Regions from separate parts of the Homo sapiens genome. Here all the other regions are linked to region 1. The links come from fine-mapping of genetic effects on gene expression. A gene starts in region 1. Each other region holds a variant in brackets. All regions are shown on one strand. Distances are between the middles of the regions.

What was found. PIP is the estimated chance that this variant, and not a neighbour inherited with it, causes the effect.
Region 2: its variant is fine-mapped to the expression of ABL2 in whole blood (TOPMed, PIP 0.95).
Region 3: its variant is fine-mapped to the expression of ABL2 in neutrophils (BLUEPRINT, PIP 0.95).
Region 4: its variant is fine-mapped to the expression of ABL2 in whole blood (TOPMed, PIP above 0.99).

The regions. Positions count from the first base shown.
Region 1 is chr1:179,227,653-179,232,803 of GRCh38, forward strand. ABL2 (ABL proto-oncogene 2, non-receptor tyrosine kinase) reads right to left here and starts at 2,025. Exons shown (of 12, transcript NM_007314.4): 1 at 1,589-2,025. The coding sequence starts at 1,745. RefSeq lists an enhancer at 1,319-2,075 and a silencer at 1,531-1,940.
Region 2 is chr1:179,655,253-179,660,403 of GRCh38, forward strand. The region is part of intron 14 of TDRD5 (tudor domain containing 5); the gene reads left to right. Among named protein-coding and RNA genes, the nearest start is that of TDRD5, 66 kb to the left of the region's middle. The variant A/G (reference allele first, on the strand shown) is at 2,567.
Region 3 is chr1:179,119,983-179,125,133 of GRCh38, forward strand. It overlaps ABL2 (ABL proto-oncogene 2, non-receptor tyrosine kinase), which reads right to left. Exons shown (of 12, transcript NM_007314.4): 5 at 1,613-1,885; 6 at 208-292. Among named protein-coding and RNA genes, the nearest start is that of TOR3A, 40 kb to the left of the region's middle. The variant TA/T (reference allele first, on the strand shown) is at 2,294.
Region 4 is chr1:179,451,842-179,456,992 of GRCh38, forward strand. All of the region lies in intron 16 of AXDND1 (axonemal dynein light chain domain containing 1), which reads left to right. It also overlaps the pseudogene HNRNPA1P54. Among named protein-coding and RNA genes, the nearest start is that of AXDND1, 88 kb to the left of the region's middle. The variant C/T (reference allele first, on the strand shown) is at 2,569.

The DNA.
Region 1 (5,151 bases):
TTCTTCCATCCTGTGTTTTAGGAAGTGATTTTAATAAAGATTAGCTCATATATCACCTTCATAAAGTGTTCATATACCCGAAAGAGACACTCAAGCACATCTTCAATAGGAGACATGTGGCCAGGCGCAGTGCCTCACGCCTGTAATCCCAGCACTTTGGGAGGCTGTGGCGGGTGGATCATGAGGTCAGGCGTTCGAGACCAGCCTGGCCAACATAGAGAAACCCCACCCTACTAAAAACACAAAAAATTAGCCGGGTGTGGTGGCGGGCGCCTGTAATCCCAGCTACTCCGAGGCTGAGGCAGGAGAATCGCTTGAACCTGGGAGGCAGAGGTTGCAGTGAGCCAAGATCACGCCACTGCACTCCAGCCTGGGCGACAGAATGAGACTCCGTCTCCAAAAAAAAAAAAAAAAAAAAAAGAGTTTGGGCCAGGAACGGTGGTGGCTCACACCCGTAATCCCAGCACTTTGAGAGGCCAAGGCAGGCAGATTACCTGATGTCAGGAGTATATGACAAAATCCCACCACCACCAAAAATACAAAAATTAGCCGGGCGTGGTGGTGCACACCTGCAGTTCCAGCTACTCGGGAGGCTGAGGCAGGAGAATCACTTGAACCCGGGAGGCAGAGATTGCAGTGAGCCGACATCCCGCCATTGCACTCCATCATGGGGACCAAAGCGAGACTCTGTCTCAAAAAAAACAAAAACAAAAACAAAACAAAAAAACAAGACAAAAAAAGTTTGGAGACAACTATTCTAAAAATACATTGACAATGAGATCAAAATAATAGGTTTCAGACTACAGGGAGCATACATACATGTATGTATGTATATGGGCACACGCACACACTACAAAGGAAAACTTGTTCATATCCTGACTGACGTCCTAACCATGCCCACCAACCTCTAGCCCTTGCCAGCAATCTCAGAATTGTGTGTCCTACTCTGAAGCATAGTACAGAGGCTTTGGCAAAGCCTTTCATTTCTAGTAAAAACGAAATACAAAACAAAATAAACCACAAAAGCATGTCAAAAGTGATAAGATGATGCTAACTTCATCTTCCCTACAGAAAAGCATTTGACACTGTCCACAGTTCACTATCCTGACACTGCTCATCACCTAACGTAAACACATACCTTGTACTCCACAATCTCCTGAAATTCAGTTCCCATTTCCCAATCCCTTAGGATACAACCCATTTCCCCTTCACTAACGACGGGTTTATGCTCCCACCTCTGGGACTGAGCTAATACTGCCCTTCATCCTTCCCTCTCCTGAAGCTGCCATTCACTTTCTTTCTGCAGCCGCATAGTCCCGTCCCAGAGTAGAGGACAGACCATCCAGGGTCCCCAAACCCACTTCTCTTTCCTTCTCCGCCCCCGGGATCTGCCAGCCAGGCTAGAGACGCGAGGGGGGAGGGGTGTGACTCGCCTCCCAGGACTGGACCAGATGGCAGCGGATTCCGCCCCCACTCTCAGGCACCTTCCACCCTCCGACCCCTCGGGCAGCCCGTCCGCCACCCACCCCGCCCCGACCCCACCCCCGGCCTCCCCCACGCTCTCATGCCGGCTCCCAGACACACTCACCATGCTGGGTGAAGATATTGAAGCCGGTCTCTGTGGTGCGCCCCGCCGGGTCCCGCCTGCGGCCGGAGGGCCTGGCTGCACTGCTGCCCCGGATCCCGCGGGGCTGAGGCTGCTGGAGCCCCGGAGCTTCCCCGACGCGGCCCACCTGCTGCCCCATCCCTGCTCTCGCGTACTCCCGCGCCCCCGCCGACCCCTGGTCACATTCCTCCTCGGCTCCGGCCTCGGGCTCCTGGCGCTGCTCCGGTCTCTCCCTCCCAGCCCAGGCCCTGGCCCTGAGTGGCTGGGCCACCGGCGGCTCCGCACCCGGCCTCCTCACGGCAGCCGCCGCGCTGCCTCCAGGCGACTCACAGATTCTGCTTTTCCCTCCTCCTGTCGCGGCTCCGCGCCCCCAACGCCGCCGCCGCCGCCGCCGCCACCGCCGCCGCCATCTTTAAACCACCGAGCGCTGGGAAAGCGTGGGACAGAGCGTCTCCCGCCCCCCGCCCCCCGCCCCCCGCCCGCCAGTCACCTCCGCCGCGGGGAAGGAGGGCTTCCCGGCTGCCGCCCCGCCCTGCCGCGCCGCGCCCCCCGTCCCCGCCCCCGCCTCCTCGCAGGGTGGGTCCCCCAGTGCCCACCTCATTTGCCGGCCACCGCTGCTTGAGGTCTTTCGTCCTCCGCGTCCTGTCGCCGCACCTCGGCGTCCCCCCCCTCAATCCGCCTCAGCCGACCCCCTCCCGCGTTCGGCTCCACACGCTACCGCCTTTGGGGTTGGTCGGTCTCCGGCCTTCCCCATCCCACCTCCACCTGTCAAATGAGTGAGTCGAGGGCTCAGTGCCACCGCGTGCGCAGCTCAGGTGCAGGCACAGGTGGGGCAGAAAAGCACAAGGCATTTATTTGGTCCTTGCCATCCAGTTAAGGAGCTCTAAAATACCCAGGGGGATCTCTTTTAAACACCCTTGTCAGCAGCAGGCCTCCAGTAAAAATTAAAATGGTATAAAATTTACAAGAAGAGAGTAAAATGCTACCTTATTTGATTTTAATTTTTGGAGATTATTTCATGATGTTAAATCGCACTGGCCTGGATTGTGTGCCTTCTATAGTCTCATTGGGGACGCAATTGTAGCCCCATTCCTCATATTATATTACCATGAATTCCTCTTGAACTCCTTTACCATCTCACCATATGTGAGTTTCTGTTTCCTTACAATGCCTGACAGTAAAGTTAATCTTCCCACTGGCATCCTTTATACACTGTGCACGTGGTCAGGTCTTCTTTTGATGACAAAGGAGAAAAAATATATATCTTTGACCCTGTTTCTGAGTCAGAACTTACTCATTTTAGCTTATGCAGTCTAAAGAGAGTGAATGAGGCAGAAAAGAAGCGTTTTATACATACACATATACTATATACAATTGACTCGCCATCCCCCTCTCCCACTGTGTTTACTTGCATCTTAATTCAATTTTTTTTAATTCTCAAATCTTGATCATTCTCCTGTTATTCTTTTGGCTTCCCAATTTGCTTTATAAAAAGTATCAGTTAATGGAGGTACTACACTGAAATTTTGCTTAAATTAGACAGGACGGGAGCCACTGCAAAGAAGGAACAAAACAACCACTGGAAATGTAGGGTTGGGAGAAGAGGTGGATGAAGCTCTCCTTTGCATATCTTTCCTGAACCAGGTTGACCTTAGATGAACCATCCACTGACGTAGATATTGCCTGTTGTAAAAGCACTATGAAATTATTCCATTGCCATCTAGGGTGTAGCCAGAAATAACTGAAATTAACTCCAAAATGGGAACGGAAACACTATGTGTAAACACTGGATAAAATATGAACTTTCCATTTGGATTAAAGTTTCCCTGTGTTTAAAATACCTGTCTTTTCTTCTAATTCCCAGTGTTTGCAACTACTGAAAAAAATTCATTCGAAAGGGATAAAGATGTCACAGAGCCGGAATTTGGTTTACTGTTTGATTTTTATTATGGGAGAAAATTTTAATTTGGGGATAATGGTTTGGTTTCTCTGCTAATTCATGCATACTATATAAAGATAGATGAATATATGGGTTGAACATCTCAAATCTGAAAATCCAAAATGCTGCAAAATTCGAAATTTTTTGAGCACCAATATGATGCCAGAGGTGGAACATTTCACGTAAGTACTTAACATAAACTTTGTTTCATGCACAAAATTTTTAAAATATTGTATTAAATTGCATTCAAGCTATGTGTATAAAGGTGTATATGAAACATAAATGAATTTTGTGTTTAGACTTGGGTCGCATGCCCAAGATATCTCATTATGTGTGTGTAAATATTCCCAAATCTGAAACACTTGTGGTCCGAACATTTCTGATAAGGGCTGCTCAGCCTGCAGTAGAGTGCAGTGGCTAAGGGCAGGGGCTCTGAAGCCAGACTGCTTGGGTTCATAACTTGGCCCTGATACTTATGGACTATTTGATCTGGGCAAAGTACATAACCTTTTTGTGTCTCAGTACATTATCTGTAAACTGATGATGATAACAAATAGTATCTACCTTATAGGAATATTGTGAAAATTAAATTAGTCAATATATATGTATAGTACTTAAAACAGTATTTGGCATATAACTGGTGTCATATATGCATATACTATTAATACAAAAAACATAATGGTTTTAGGTTTTACAAGCCTAACTTTTTCAAATTTTATATATATATATATATATAAATTTGAGCAATGGCCAGAGGCCAGCATAAAAGATCAGACACATCACCAACAGCAGTAAGGCGTGCTGAAGACACAGATACTCTTCATCCTCATCATCCTTATCACAGGAGCAACACCACTCTCTCCAGAAGGAAGGAGCTTGTGAGTAATGCCTCACCAATCCCTGACTTCACCAGTCTGCATTTCTAGGCTATTGCCATACTTTTTACAGTTTTACAGTATCTCTCATATCTACCTCTTCCCTTCATCTATATAAACAGCGTTATGTAAGACACAGTGTTAGCTTAGGCATCTCTGCGCTGGTTTCTCCCGCTACTAGCCCTTTCTTCCTAGAGATTCCTCACCTTTAGCACCAAGCAACTCACTCAAAGAAACTGCTTCTCTCATTGCTTTGACCACACTCTCCCTCTCATTCATTACGTACAAAGTCTTAAGTCTAAAATTTTCACCTAATGGGCCGGGCACAGTGGCTCATGTTTGTAATCCCAGCACTTTGGGAGGCCAAGGTGGGCGGATCACTTGAGGTCAGGAGTTTAAGACCAGTCAGGCCAATATGGTGAAACCCCGTCTCTACTAAAAATGCAAAAACTAGCCAATCGTGGGGGCGCGTGCCTGTAATCCCAGCTACTGGGGAACCTGAGGCAGGCGAATTGCTTGAGCCCAGGAGGCGGAAGTTGCAGTGACAGGAGATTGCGCCACTGCACCCCAGCCTAGGTGACAGAGGGAGTCTCTGTCTCAAAAATAAATAAATAAATAAATAAATAAACAAAATAAACGTTTCACCTAGTGTTTCGAAGTTATTTTCCAGGATAACTGGATTATAATTGCCTAATGTTCTTCCATCTCCTGTTCCTCCAACCTCCACCTTT
Region 2 (5,151 bases), 430 kb after region 1:
ACACAAACATAACCTTTTTGTCCCTTCCCCCTACCATGTTACTGATATAGTATATCAAACTTTCCATCAGATCACTATTCAATGTTTACATTACTGTGACTATGTAAATGCTCTTCACGGCTTGGCCAAGTATTATAGTACACTGTTACACCTTTTTTTCCCTTGCATAACTTTTTTTCATGTTAATATTTCTTTCCTTTTATAAATTAACACATAGTAAAATTGACTGTTTTGGTGTACTATTCTATCAACTTTAATAAATGTGTAGATTTGTGTAACCAACACTGCAATTGGGATGCAGAACAGCTCCATCATCTAAAATAACTCCCTTGTGCTACTGCTTTGTAATCACAGTCTCCCCACATCCCTAACCCCTAGCAACTGGTCTGGGGTCTGTTTTCTGTCACTCTAGTTTTACCTTTTCAGGACTGTCATGTAAGTAGAATCATATAGTATGTAACCTTTGGAGACTGGCTTCTTTCATTCAGTATATTTCTGTACCTTTGAGATTCATCCATGCTCTTGCATGTATCAATAATATGTTCTTTTCGATTGCTGAATAGTATTTTATAGGATAAATACACCACAGTTTGTATACCCATTCACCCATTGAAGGACATTTGGGTTGTTTCTAGTTTGGGGTATTTATGAATAGAGCTGCTATAAATATTCATGTACAGGTTTTTGTGTGAACATAAGCTTCATTTATCTACGGTAAATACCCAGGAGTAAGATTGCTGGGTCATGTGATAAGTGTATGTCAAACTTTTTTCCAGAGTGGCTGTACCATTTTGAATTTTCACCAGCAATAATATATGAGTTCCAGTTGCTCCATTTTCTTGTCAGCACTTGACATTGTCAGTAATTTTGCTTTAGCCATTTTAATAGGTGTGTAGTAGTATCACAGCATGATTTTAAATTCCAGTGATTAATGATGTTGAACATCTTTTCATGTGCTTAGTTGTCATCTATACACAATTCTTGGTGAAATTTCTGTTGAAGTCTTTTTCCCATTTTTTTGATTGGGTTGTTTTCTTACTCTTGAGTTTTGAGAGTTCTTTATATATTCAGGATACTAGTTCTTTGTCAAATAATGTGATTTTCAAAAATATTTTCTCACTTGTAGCTTGTCTTTTCATTCTCTTGATAGTGTCTTTCATACAGAAGTTTTTAATTTTGAAAAAACCTAACGTATCAACTTGTTTTCTATTATGGACAGTGTTTCCAGTATCAAGACATCTTGAGTTAATTTTAGTATAAGGCATGAAATTTAGGTTAGGTTTCATTTTGTTACATGTGGATGTCCAACTGATCCAGCATCCTTTGTTGACAAGACTATCCTATCTCCATTGAATTGTCTTTGAAGCCTTATCAAAAATCAATTGTCCATATTTCTGTAAGTCTATTTCTAGACTCTATATTCTTCTCCAGTGACCTATATGTTTGTCTCTTCATCACTACCACATTGTCTTGATTACTGTAGACTTACATAGTACCTCTTAAAATCAGGTAGTATGGGCTGGGCGCAGTGGCTCATGCCTATAATCCTAGCACTTTGGGAGGCCAAGGTGGGTGGATTACCTGAGGTCTGGAGTTCAGGACCAGCCTGGCCAACATGGCAAAACCCTGTCTCTACTAAACAATACAAAAACTAGCCGAGTGTGGTGGTGGGCACCTGTAATCCCAGCTACTTAGGAGACTGAGACAGGAGAATTGCTTGAACCCGGAAGACAGAGGGAGGTTGCAGTGAGCTGGGATCACACCATTGCACTCCAGCCTGGACGACAAGAGCAAAACTCTGTCTCAAGAAAAAGAAAAAATCAGGTAGTATGATTCCTCCTATTTTATACTTTTTCAAAATTGTTTTTAATATTTTGGTTCCTTTTTCTTTCCTTGTAAATTTTAGAATCAGCTTATCTATACCTGAGATTTTGATTGGAGTTGTGTTATATATATAGATAATTTTGAGGAAAGTTGATGCTTTAGTCCATGAACATGGTGTATCTCCCCATTTATTTAGGTTTTCTTTTATTTCTTCAACAGTGTTATAATTTTCAGTATACAGGATCTGTACATGTTCTGTTAATTTTATACCTAAGTATTTCACTTATTTTGAGAGCTATTATAAATGTTTTCCCCAGTTTTTGTATTTTAATTGCTAGTATATAGAAATTGGTGTTTTTTTGAACTACCTAACTTCACTTATCCATTCTAGGGGGTGTTTTGTTGGTTTCTTTTGTGATTTTCTGTATCAGTAATGTTGTCTGCGTTAGTACATGCAAATGGATATCTGTTTTCATGAGATATTGGTCTGTAGTTTTCTTGTATTGTCTTTGGTTTTTATACTGGATAATCCTGGCCTCATAAAATAAATCTGAATATATTGCCCGCTTTGCTGTTTTCTGGGAAAGATTATGTAGAATTGTATTTCCTTTTTATTTATTTTTGTTGTTTGTGTGGATCTTTATTTTCTTAGTTTTTTTAATTAAGTAAAATTGCATATATGGTGTACAACATGTTTCAATATATGTATACACTGTAGCATGTATAAGTCAAGCTATTTAGC[A/G]TATGCATTACCTCACATATTTGTTATTTTTTTGTGGTGAAAACACTTAAAATCTACTCTCCTGGCAATTTTTAAGTATACAATATGTCACTATTAACTGTAGTTACCAAGATGTATAGCAGATCTCTTGAACTTACTCCTCCTGTCTACTGAAATTTTGTGTCCTTTGACCAACATCTGCCCAATCCCTCCACCTCCTAGCCTCTGGTAACTACTATTTCACTCTGCTTTTTTAGATTCCACATGTAAGTGAGATCATGTGTTATTCCTCTTTCTGTATCTGGCTTCTTTCATGTAACATAATGTCCTCCTGGTTCATCCATTTTGTCACAAATTACAAGATTTCCTTCTTTTTAAAGGTTGAATATTGTTACATTGTGTATATATACCACGTTTTCTTTATTTGTTTATTGATGTACACTTTGTACAGGTTGATACTGTCCTAATAAAATGAGTTGGAAGTATTCGCTCATCTATTTTCTGGAAAAGGTTACATAAAATCAGGTTATTTTTCAGGGAGAGAAGTTAATTTTTAAAATGTTTGATATTACCTTATAAAACTATCTGGGCCTGGAGACTTTTTTCCAGAAGAATTTAAATTATAAAATCAATTGCTTTAGTAGATATAAGATTATTCAAATCAGCTATTTTATCTTAGTCTTGGTATTTTGTGGTTTTTGAGGAAGTGACTCATTTAAGTTATCAAATGAGGAATTGGTTCACTTCATCTAAGTTGTCAACTATATGTATAACATTGTTTATAGTATTCCCTTATTATCCTTTTGTTATCTGCAGGGTCTGCAATGATAATCTCCTATTACATTTCTGATATTGGCAGTTTGTCTTCTCCCCTTTTCATTAGTCTTACTAGAGATTTATCCATTTTATTGAACTTCCCATTCCTAGAGAATAAGCTTTTGGTGTCACTGGTTTTATCTCTTGTCTTTCTGTTTTCAAGTTCGTTGATTTCTTTCTTTTATTTTCTTTGGGTTTATTTTTGCTTTCTTTTTCTATTTCTTTAAGATGGAAGTTTACTTTATTGATTTGAGACCTTTCTTTTCTAATATAAGCATTGATGCTATGAGTCTCTACATATCACTTTAGCTGCATTTCACAAATTTGAACATATTGTATTTTCATTTTCATTCAGTTCAAATATTTTATAGTTTATTTTGAGATATTATCTTTCACCCATGAATTATTTGGAAGTGTGTTGTTTAATTTCCAAGTGTTTGGAAATTTTCATGTTAACTTCCTGTTACGTCTTTCCAGTATAGTATGGTCTTAGAACACAGTATGATTTCAGTTCTTTAAATTTGTTAAGGTTTGTTTTGTCAACACAGGATGTGGTCTAGCTTGGTAAATGTCCATGTGTCTTTGAAAAAAACATGTATTCTGTTGTTTGGTGGAGTTTCTATAAATGTCAGATCCAATTGATTAGTGGTATTGTTCAGTTCTTCTGATCCTTGCTATCTACCGATTTTGTTGATTACTGAGAAGAACACTGAAGTCTGTAACTGTAATCTTGGATTTTGTCTATTTCTCCTTTCATTCTGTCAGTTTTTCTGTTGTGCATTTTGAAGCTCTATTGTTAGGTGTTATCCATTTAGGATTCTTACATGTCTTGGTGAATTGACCCTTTTATCATTATGAAATGTCTTTATTCACAATTACTTTTTTTGCACTGAAGTGTACATAATGCACTGATATCAGTATAGCCATTCCAGTTTTCGTGTGTGTGTGTGTGTGTGTGTGTGTGTGTGTGTGTGTGTGCGCGCGCTTGCCTGGTATATTTTTTTCCATCCTTCTAACCTACCTGTGTCATTATATTTGAAGTAAGTTTCTTGAGACAGCATATAGTTTGATTATTTATTTATTTATTTAATTTATTTTTTTGAGACGGAGTTTTGCTCTTGTTTCCCAGGCTGGAGTGCAATGGCATGATCTCAGCTCACCACAACCTCCACCTCTTGGGTTCAAGCAATTCTCCTGCCTCAGCCTCCTGAGTAGCTGGGATTACAGGTGTGCGCCCCATGCCCGGCTAATTTTGTATTTTTAATAGAGATGGGATTTCTCCATGTTGGTCAGGCTGGTCTTGAACTCCCGACCTCAGATGATCTGCCCACCTTGGCCTCCCAAAGTGCTGGGATTACAGGCATGAGCCACTGTGCTCAGCCTTGTTTGATTATTTTTTAATCCACTCTGACAATCTGAATTTTAATTAGTATGGTTTGGACTATTTATGTTTAATGTGATTATATATATGTTTTTATTTTAGATCTGCCATTTTATTTTTCTGTTTGTTCCCCTGATTTTCATTCATCTGCCTCCTCTTTCTTGCCTTCTCTTAGGTTATTTGAACATTTTTTAGTATTCCATTTTATCTACTATGGTTTTTTTTTTTTTTTTTTTTTTTTTTGAGACAGAGTCTTGCTCTGTTGCCCAGGCTGGAGTGCAGTGGCACAATCTCGGCTCACTGCAAGCTCTGCCTCTCAGGTTCACGCCATTCTCCTGCCTCAGCCTCCCGAGTAGCTGGGACTCCAGGCACCCACCAGCACACCTGGCTAATTTTTTTTTATTTTCAG
Region 3 (5,151 bases), 110 kb before region 1:
AAAAAAGGCGGGGCATGGTGGCTCATGCCTGTAATCCCAACATATTGAAAGGCCCAGGCGGAAGTATCACGTCAACAGCAGCCTGGACAACAGAGCGAGACCCTGTCTCTATATTTAAAAAGAAAAAAAAAAAGCATTTGGAGATAACAAGGGGTTAAAGGGCAAGCATTTTTGGAGGAAATCTATGGTTCAGGCAAGGTTCCTCACCTAAAAGTTGTACCAGATTAGGATGCTTGATTTCCTTCATTACTGCAGCTTCTTTCAGGAATTCTTCTACCTCCATGGTATCTTCCTAGAAAAAGGGAAAGGTAAGAAAGAAGAAAACGAGAGGGACAAACCCTCAACTTAAAATCATTTCATTCATCTCACAATCATAAAGCTTCAGCTTTAAAAGTAAAAACTATCTTTTGAATATTTTAGCATATTACAAGATATAATTATTATTTTAATTTAATTTATTTTTTTGAGACACGGTCTCGCTCTGTTACCCAGGTTGGGGTGAAGTGGTGTGATCTCACTGCAACCTCCGCTTCCTGGGCTCAAGCGATTCTCCTGGCTCAGCCTCCCAAGTAGCTGGGATTACAGGCATGCACGACCATGCCTGGCTACTTTTTGTATTTTTAGTAGAGACGGGGTTTTGCAATGTTGGCCAGGATGCTCTCCTGACCTCAGGTGATTCGCCCACCTGAGCTCCCCAAATTGCTGGGATTACAGGTGTGAGCCACCACGCCCAGCTGAAATAATTATTATTTTAAGAAGTCCAACTTAGAAAGAAAAATGCCCTGGAGTAAAAATTAGCAGGAGGAGCAAAATTCAGCAATCGTGTCCTATAATCAACTGAAACACAGGAGCCCTGTATTGGATAGTTCAGTTCTCTCATAGTTTACTTCTCCAGATATCTCAGGCTTTGAATGACGAGACAGAGCACTTAGCTGCTTACATACTTATCTTCTTGCTTAGATCATAATCTTCTTAGAGAGCAAGGCCTTATATATTGCTTCACACTCAGAATATGCTTAAGAAACAGAACTGACTACTACTTAATAGCTAAAGAATAGCCCTTATAAGTGATACACCAGAGACAGTTACTGAGGCTCTGGGAGAATCAAGTGAGTGAAAACCTTATAATTTGATACTGGGATGTTTAAAGGAGACATATAGTAGTACTACGAAAAAGATTTCTGTTAATATTAAGAAGTGATCTAACTGCAAAGAGACAGGAGGAACAAGAACAAGGGAGAGAAAGGACAGAACAAGAAAGAGGCCCATGACTCTCAGACAAGAATTCTGTCCAGCAGGGGTCGTTCTCAGGAAGCAAAAGAGCTTATTTTGCTTTTATAACTTTTAATTTGCTTCTAACCTCCCACTAAGATCTACATCAACAGCCTCCAGAGACAGACCTTTCCCACATGTGGGTTTCACTGCATTGCAGTGAATAATCTACCTCTGCATTGTCAGCAATGGCACTAGGGTTAATCATCTCAATTTGCTGATGTGCTTGGCACTAGTGGGTGGAAAGTGTTCCAAAGTTAAAGAAGGGCATGCTGATATTTCCAAGTGATTGAGCACAAAAGAAAAAGATGCCTGAAAACTGTAATTCTCAGCAACCCACCTTCAATGTTTTCACAGCAACTGTAAGGCTGTATTTCTTCCAGACGCCAACGTAAACCTCTCCATACTGACCGCCCCCAAGTTTGTGCTTCATGGTAATATCTGTTCGCTCCATTTCCCATTTGTCGTGGATGGGGGACACACCATAGACTGTAGGCTTATTACACTTGGGTGCTGGGTAGTGTAATGTTGTCACCAGCCCATCAGCCACTGTGGAGTGATGGTGTACAAGCTCTGCCAAGGTGCTGAAGCGGCTCTCAGCAGTCACATACACCTGGTAAGAAAAGGAGAAAAGCTAAACAACTTGAAAAGAGATTAAGAATTTTTTTTTTTTTTTTTTTTTTTTTTTTGAGATGGAGTCTTGTTCTGTCACCCAGGCTGGAGTGCACTGGCGCGATCTCGGCTCACTGCAAGCTCCGCCTCCCGGGTTCACGCCATTCTCCTGCCTCAGCCTCTCTGAGTAGGTGGGACTATAGGCGCCCGCCACCATGCCCGGCTAATTTTTTGTATTTTTAGTAGAGATGGGGTTTCACCGTGTTCTTGATCTCCTGACCTCGTGATCTGCCGGCCTCAGCCTCCCAAAGTGCTGGGATTACAAGCATGAGCCACCGCTCCCGGCCTAGGAATTCTTTTTTAAAGCCCATATTTCACTGGCCTGAAGATATAGATAGAAGGCTATCTT[TA/T]AAAAAAAAAAAAAAAAAAAAAATATTCTGCAGACAGGGTCTCACTATTGCCCAGGCAGGTCTCAAACGCCAGCCTCAAGCAATCCTCCTGCCTGGGCCTCCCAAGGTGCTGAGATTACAGACTGGGCCAGTATACCCAGCAAGAGTTTATCTTAATTGAGGTAAATAAAAAAGTTAAATGATGATTGCAAGGGTAAACACAGAACTTCAGTTTAATCTTATTTAATCTGCCTTTCCTATTCTTCCTAAATTAGTCTTGGGAAAAACCTTCCAAGATCTCTCTCTGGATAATCAAGCTCATTGGTCTTCAAATATATATATATTTTCAAATATATATATACTCAAATTATGTATTTTTTCAAATATATATTTCTTTTTCTTTTTTTCTTTTTTTTGAGACAGAGTCTCACTCTGTTGCCCAGGCTGGAGTGCAGTGTCATGACCTCAGCTCACTGCAACCTCCGCCTCCTGGGTTCAAGTGATTCTCCTGCCTCAGCCTCCCAAGTACCTGGGATTACAGGCATGCGCCATCACGCCTGGCTAATTTTTTTCTTTGTATTTTTAGTAGAGATGGGGTTTCACCATGTTAGCCAGGCTGGTCAGGAACTCCTAACCTCAAGTGATCTGCCTGCCTCAGTCTCCCAAATTGCTGGGATTACAGGTGTGAACTACCACGCCCGGCCAGTCTTCAAATATTTTTAAGCCACAAGACTATGGACTCAACTACAGAAGATACGTAAAGAAGAGATACCCTGATCAAAGTAGGCAAGCAAGGACTTGGCCTCTTGTAGAAATTTACAAAATATCACCTTAATCTTGTAAAAAACATAACTTGAAAACCACTGATTTAGATTTTTTTGGTAAGAGTATTCAAATATCTCATAATTTTAATTATGACGTGCAGTTGAGTGTCTAGGCCATTAAAGAAAGAGCCACAATTTACCGGTGGCCAGGAGCAGTGGCTCACACCTGCAATCCCAGCACTTTGGGAGGCTGAGGTGGGCAGGTCACTTGAGGTCAAGAGTTGAGACCAGCTTGGCCATCATGGTGAAACCTCCTCTCTACTAAAAATACAAAAATTAGCCAGGCTTGGTGGTGCGTGCCTGCAGTCCCAGCTACTTGGGAGGCTGAGGTGGGAGGATTGCTTGAACCTGGGAGGTGGAGGTTGCAGTGAGCTGAGATCACGCCACTGCATTCTAGAGTGGGTGACAGAGCAAGACTCCATCTAAAAAAAAGAAAAGAGCCACACTGGATTTCACAGAATTGCTTACAAAATAGTTGTTAATTTGCTAAGCAATAAGAAATGTAAAGTAAGAGGGAATTCTCTGGACTTCTCTCCCAAGGGAGCCTTAATTTTTATGTATTTTTGAGAAATAAGGGTCTCACTCGGTTGCCCGGCCTGGAGTGCAGTGACACAATCATGACTCACTGCAGCCTTGACCTCCCAGGTTCAGGTGATCCTCCTGCCTCAGCTTCCCGAGTAGCTAGGACCACAGACATATGCCACCATGCCCAGCTAATTTTTAAAATTTTTTGTAGAGATGAGGTTTCACTATATTCCTCAAGCTGGTCTTGAACTCCTGGGCTCAAGTGATCTACCCTCCTTGGCCTCCCCAAGTGTTGGGATTACAGGCATAGGCCACCATGCCTAGCCTGTTATTTATTTTTTTTAAAGACGCTTTTGGTCGGGCGCAGTGGCTCACGCCTGTAATCCCAGCACTTTGGGAGGCCAAGGCGGGTGGATCACGAGGTCAGGAGATCGAGACCATCCTGGCTATCATGGTGAAACACCGTCTCTACTAAAAATACAAAAAATTAGCCGGGCGTGGTGGTGGGCGCCTGTAGTCCCAGCTATTGAGGAGGCTGAGGCAGGAGAACGGCGTGAACCTGGGAGGCGGAACTTGCAGTAAGCCGAGATCGCGCCACTGCACTCCAGCCGGGGCGACACAGCAAGACTCCATCTCAAAAGAAAAAAAAAAAAAGAAGCTTTTGTTTTAGTGTATAAAGTATCAATTCATAAACAGAAAATTGATAATTTTTACAAAGTAAACTCACCCATGTAAACATCACCCACACCAAGAATTATAACATGATCAGCACCCCAGAAGCCTCCCTTATGCTCTCCAGCTATTTGCCCTTGCAGAGATAGCCACTATGCTGACTTCTAACATCTTAGATTAGCTTCTGCTTTTTTTTTTTTTTTTTTTTTTGAGACAGAGTCTCGCTCTGTTGCCCAGGCTGGAGTGCAGTGGCACGATCTTGGCTCACTACAACCTCCACCTCCCAGGTTCAACCAATTCTCCTGCCTCAGCCTCCTGAGTAACTGGGATTACAGTCGCGTGCCACCATGCCAGGCCAATTTTTGTATTTGTAGTAGAGACAGGGTTTCACCATGTTTGTGGGGCTGACATCCTGACCTCCAGTGATGAGGCCCACCTCGGCCTCCCAAAGTGCTGGGATTACGGGTGTGAGCCACCATGCCTGGCCTCTGCTTCTGAACTATACACAAACAGAATCACACAATATGTATTGTTTTATGTCTGCTTTTTTCCACCCAACTTTTAAAAATTGCATTATATTTCAGATACCATAAAATTCATCATTTTAAGGTATACCATTTCATGGTTTTTAGCATATTCTCAAAGTTGTCCAACCATCATGACTATCTAACTCTAGAACATTCTCATTACCTCATATCTATTAGGAGTCCTTCCCACTCCCCACATCCTCATCCCCTGGCTAATACTAATCCTTCAACTTTGCTGAAGTTGTTGAGTCAGCTAACACTCATCTAGAGTAGGGGCCAGCAAACTCTTCATAAGGGCCAGATAATAAATATTTTAGGCTGTGGCCATAG
Region 4 (5,151 bases), 220 kb after region 1:
CCCCTTTTCCCATATAAATTATTCAGTCTTGAGTATGTCTTTATCAGCAGAATGAAAATGGACTAATACAGTAAATTGGTACCAGTAGAGTAGGGTGCTGCTGAAAAGATACCTGAAAATGTGGAAGCGACTTTGGAACTGGGTAACAGGCAGAAGTTGAAATGGTTTGGAGGGCTTAGAAGAAGACAGGAAAATGTGGGAAAGTTTGAAACTCCCTAGAGACTTGTTGAATGGCTTTGAACAAGATGCTAATAATGATATGGACAATGAAATCCAGGCTAAGGTGGTCTCAGATGGAGATGAGGAACTTCTTGGGAACTGGAGCAAAGGTGACTCTTGTTATATTTTAGCAAAGGGACTGGCAGCATTTTGCCCCATCCTAGAGATTTGTGGAACTTTGAACTTGAGAGAGATGATTTAGGGTATCTGGCAGAATAAATTTCTAAGCAACAAAGCATTCAAGAGGTGACTTGAGTGCTGTTAAAGGCATTCAGTTTTAAAAGGGAAACAGAGCATAAAAGTTTGTAAAATTTGCAGCCTGACAATGCGATAGAAAAGAAAATCCCGCCGGGCGCGGTGGCTCACGCCTGTAATCCCAGCACTTTGGGAGGCCGAGGCGGGTGGATCATGAGGTCGGGAGATCGAGACCATCCTGGCTAACAAGGTGAAACCCCGTCTCTACTAAAAATACAAAAAATTAGCCGGGCGCGGTGGCGGGCGCCTGTAGTCCCAGCTACTCGGGAGGCTGAGGCAGGAGAATGGCGTGAACCCGGGAAGCGGAGCTTGCAGTGAGCCGAGATTGCGCCACTGCAGTCCGCAGTCCGGCCTGGGCGACAGAGCGAGACTCCGTCTCAAAAAAAAAAAAAAAAAAAAAAAAAAAGAAAAGAAAATCCCATTTTCTGAGGAGAAAGTCAAGCTGGCTGCAGAAATTTACTTAAGTAATGGGGAGCCAACTGTTAATCCCCCGAGACCATGGGGAAAATGTCTTCAGGGCATGTCATAGGTCTTCATGGCAGCCCCTTCCCATCATAAGCCTGGAGGCCTAGGAGGTAAAAATGGTTTCGTGGGCTGGGTCCAGGGTCCCCATGCTGTGAGTAGCCTAGGGATTTGGTGCCCTGTGTCCCAGCTGCTCTAGCTGTGGCTGAAAGGGGCCAACATAGAGCTCAGGCTGTGGCTTCAGAGGGTGCAAGCCTCAAGCCTTGGCAGCTTCCATGTGGTATTGAACCTGCGGGTGTACAGAAGTCAAGAACTGGGGTTTGGGAACCTCCACCCAGATTTCAGAGGATGTATGGAAACGCCTGGATGCCCAGGCAGAAGTTTGCTGCAGGGGCAGGGCCCTCATGGAAAACCTCTGCTAGGGAAGTGCAGCAGGGAAATGTGGGGTCAGAGACCCCACACAGAGTCTCTACTGGGGCACAGCCTAGTGGAGTTATGAGAAGAGGGCCACTGTCCTCCAGACCCCAGAATGGTAGATCCACCAACAGTTTTCACCATGCACCTGGAAAAGCCACAGACACTCATTGCCAGACCATGAAAGCAGCCGGGAGGCTGTACCGCACAAAACCACAGGGGTGGAGCTGCCCAAGACCATGGGAGCCCATCTCTTGCATCAGCATGACCTGGATGTGACACGTGGAGTCAAAGAAGGTCATTTTGGACCTTTAAGATTTGACTGCTGTCCAGGCACAGTGGCTCATGCCTGTAATCCCAGCACTTTGGGAGGCTGAGGCAGGCGGATCACCTGAGGTCAGGAGTTTGAGACCAGCCTGGCCAACATGGTGAAACTCTATCTCTACTAAAAGTACAAAATTAGCCAGTCGTGGTGGCATGCACCTGTAGTTTCAGCTACTCAGGAGGCCGAGGCAGGAGAGTCACTTGAACCTGGGAGGCAGAGGTTGCAGTGAGCCAAGATCGCACCGTTGCACTCCAGCCTGGGCAAGAAGAGCAAATCTCTGTCTCAAAAAAAAAAAAAAAAAAAAAAATGGACTCTCCTGCTAGATTTTGGATTTGCATGGGGCTTGTAGGCCCTTTGTTTTGGCCAATTTCTCCCATTTAGAATGCCTGTATTTACCCAATGCCTGTACCCCCTTCGTGTCTAGGAAGTGACTAACTTGCTTTTGATTTTACAGGCTCATAGGCAGAAAGGACTGGTCTTGTTTCAGATGAGACTTTGGAATGTGGACTTTTAAGTTAATGCTGAAATGAATTAAGACTTTGGGGGGACTGTTGGGAAGGCATGGTTGGTTTTGAAGTGTGGAGATTTGGGAGGGGCCAGGGACAGAATGATATGGTTTGGCTGTGTCCCCACCCAGATCTCATCTTGAATTCCCATGTGTTGTGGGAGGGACCCAGTGGGAGGTAATTGAATCATGGGAGCAGGTCTTTCCCATGCTGTTCTCATGGTAGGGAATAAGTCTCATGAGATCTGATGGTTTTATAATGGGGTGTTTCCCTACACAAGCTTTCTTCTCTTGTCTACCTCCATGTGAGACATGCCTTTCACCTTCTGCTATGGTTGTGAGGCCTCCACAGCCACGTGGAACTGTAAGTCCATTAAACCTCTTTCTT[C/T]TGTGAATTGCCCAGTCTCGGGTATGTCTTTATTAGCAGCATGAAAATGGACTAATACAGGAATCTACTACAGGAATAAGTTGAGAAATGATGAGGACCTATCCTAAGACATGGGAATGGAGAAGAGGAAAGAAAAATAAGAGATTTAAAAAATGTAGGCTACACAATTGTGTGTGTGAGAGAGAGTATTGTGGGATGGCTGTGTTCCTGATTGGACTGTAAATGGGTCATCCAATTTATTAAGATTAGAGAATACAGGAGAAGGAAAAGTATGGGGAAGGGAGATTGTGTATTTAGTATTAGACATACTGACTTTCGAGTAGCTATGGCACAATTAAGTGGACTTGTTCAACAGGCATGTCAGGAATGTGGGAGAAAAATCTTGGATGAAATTTTGGAAGACGCCAGGCACGGTGGCTCAAACCTATAATTCTAGCACTTTGGGAGGCCGAGGCAGGTGGGTCACCTGAGGTCAGTGGTTTGAGACCATCTTGGCTAACATGGTGAAATCCCATCTCTACCAAAAATACAAAAAACTTAGCCGGGCGTGGTGGCAGGCGCCTGTAGTCCCAGCTACTCTGGAAGCTGAGGCAGGAGAATGGCGTGAACCCAGGAGGTGGAGTTTGCAGTGAGCGGAGATCGTGCCACTGCACTCCCGCCTGGGCGACAGAATGAGACTCCGTCTCAAAAAAAAAAAAAGAAAAAAGAAAAAAATTAGCGCTGGTCATGGTGGCACATGCCTGTAATCCCCACTATTCAGGAGGCTGAGGCGGGAGAATCGCTTGAACCCGGGAGGCAGAGTTTGCAGTGAGCAGAGATTGCACCCTTGCACCCCAGCCTAGGGGAGAGAGTGAGACTCTGTTTCAAAAAAAAAAAAAAAAAAAGTAAAAAAAAAAAAAGAGGCTGGGTGCGGTGGCTCACGCCTGTAATCCCAGCACTTTGAGAGGCCGAGGTGGGCGGATCACGAGGTCAGGAGATCAAGACCATCCTGGCTAACACCGTGAAATTCCGTCTCTACTACAAATACAAAAAAAATTAGCCGGGCTTGGTGGTGGGCGCCTGTAGTCCCAGCTACTCTGGAGGCTGAGGCAGGAGAATGGCGTGAAGCCGGGACGCAGAGCTTGCAGTGAGCTGAGATCGCGCCACTGTACTCCAGCCTGGGCGACAGAGTGAGACTCCGTCTCAAAAAAAAAAAAAAAAAAAAATTAAAAAAAAAATTTTGGAAGATACTAGTATATGTGTTAGTTAAAGCCATGAATTTTGATGAGATCACCTTGGGGGGGAAATATACAATGGGAATAACTAAGGACTAAGAATGGATCCCCAACATTTTAAAGGGTAACGAGAGATAGTAGGACAATAGAAGTAGGAGGAAACCCAATAGAATTGAGTCATAAGAAGCCAGCTTTGGCTGCATCCCATGTTTTGCATAATTTTTATTATTTAGTTTAAGACATAGTTTGTTTTGTTTTGTTTTGTTTTTAAAGACATTTATTCAGCATCACAATCAGACTATTACATTTAGCAATCAACAGCATGGGTGCCAAAAAAAAAAAACTACATTAAAACCCTTTGTTGGAATGCTTTACACTTTTCACAGAACACAAACTAAAATAACCTGTTATAGAGTTAGTCACAAATAACAGTCCTCGAGTTTTTTGCCCATACTCATCAGTATTTGTCTAAAATATGTCTTCTTTGTAGCACCTAGGCCCTGCTACCACTGTGCTTGGCTGAGTTCACAAATCTGTTGTAACCTGTAGCTTCCCTGTCACTTCTCTGGATCTCCTCTCCTGCTAAGCTTTGTTTCCTAATTAAAATCTGCCACTGTCATAGCTACTGCTGCTACTGGAACCTCCATAGCCACCTTGGTTTTGTGGTTTGACGAAGTATTGGCCTCCACCACCACAGGGGACAGAACTTCTGCCTCCAAAGTTTCCTCCCTTCGTGGGTCCAAAATTTGAAGACTGATTGTTGTAATTGCCAAAATCATTGTAGCTTCCACTACCTCCAAAACTGCTTCCACTACCACCACCAAAGCTGCCTCCACCTCCGTTGTTATAGCTATTATAGCTGCCACTCCCACCATAGCCACTGCCCTGGCTTCCATAACCCTGTCCAACACTTCCATAGCCTCTGCTTCCTCCGGAGTAACCAGGGCCACCTCCTCCATAACCACCATCATTACCAAACCCATTATAGCCATCCCCACTGCCACCATATCCATCACCACCACAGCTGCCACCAAAGCCATCATGACCACTGAAGTTTCCTCCGTGACCAAAGTTGTCATTCCCACTGAAACCACCTCCATGACCACCACCAAAGTTTCCAGAACTACTTTGACCTCTTTGGCTGGATGAAGCCCTAGCCATCTCTTGGTCTGACAGGGCTTTCCTAACTTCACAGTTGTGGCCATTCACAGTATGCTATTTCTGAATGACAGTTTTATCCATGGAGTTATGATTGTCAAAGGTTACAAAGGCAAAGCCTCTTTTCTTGCCACTGCCTCAGTCATGATTTCAATCACTTCATTTTTTCCATACTGTTCAAAATAATCTCTTAGGTGATGTTCTTCAGTGT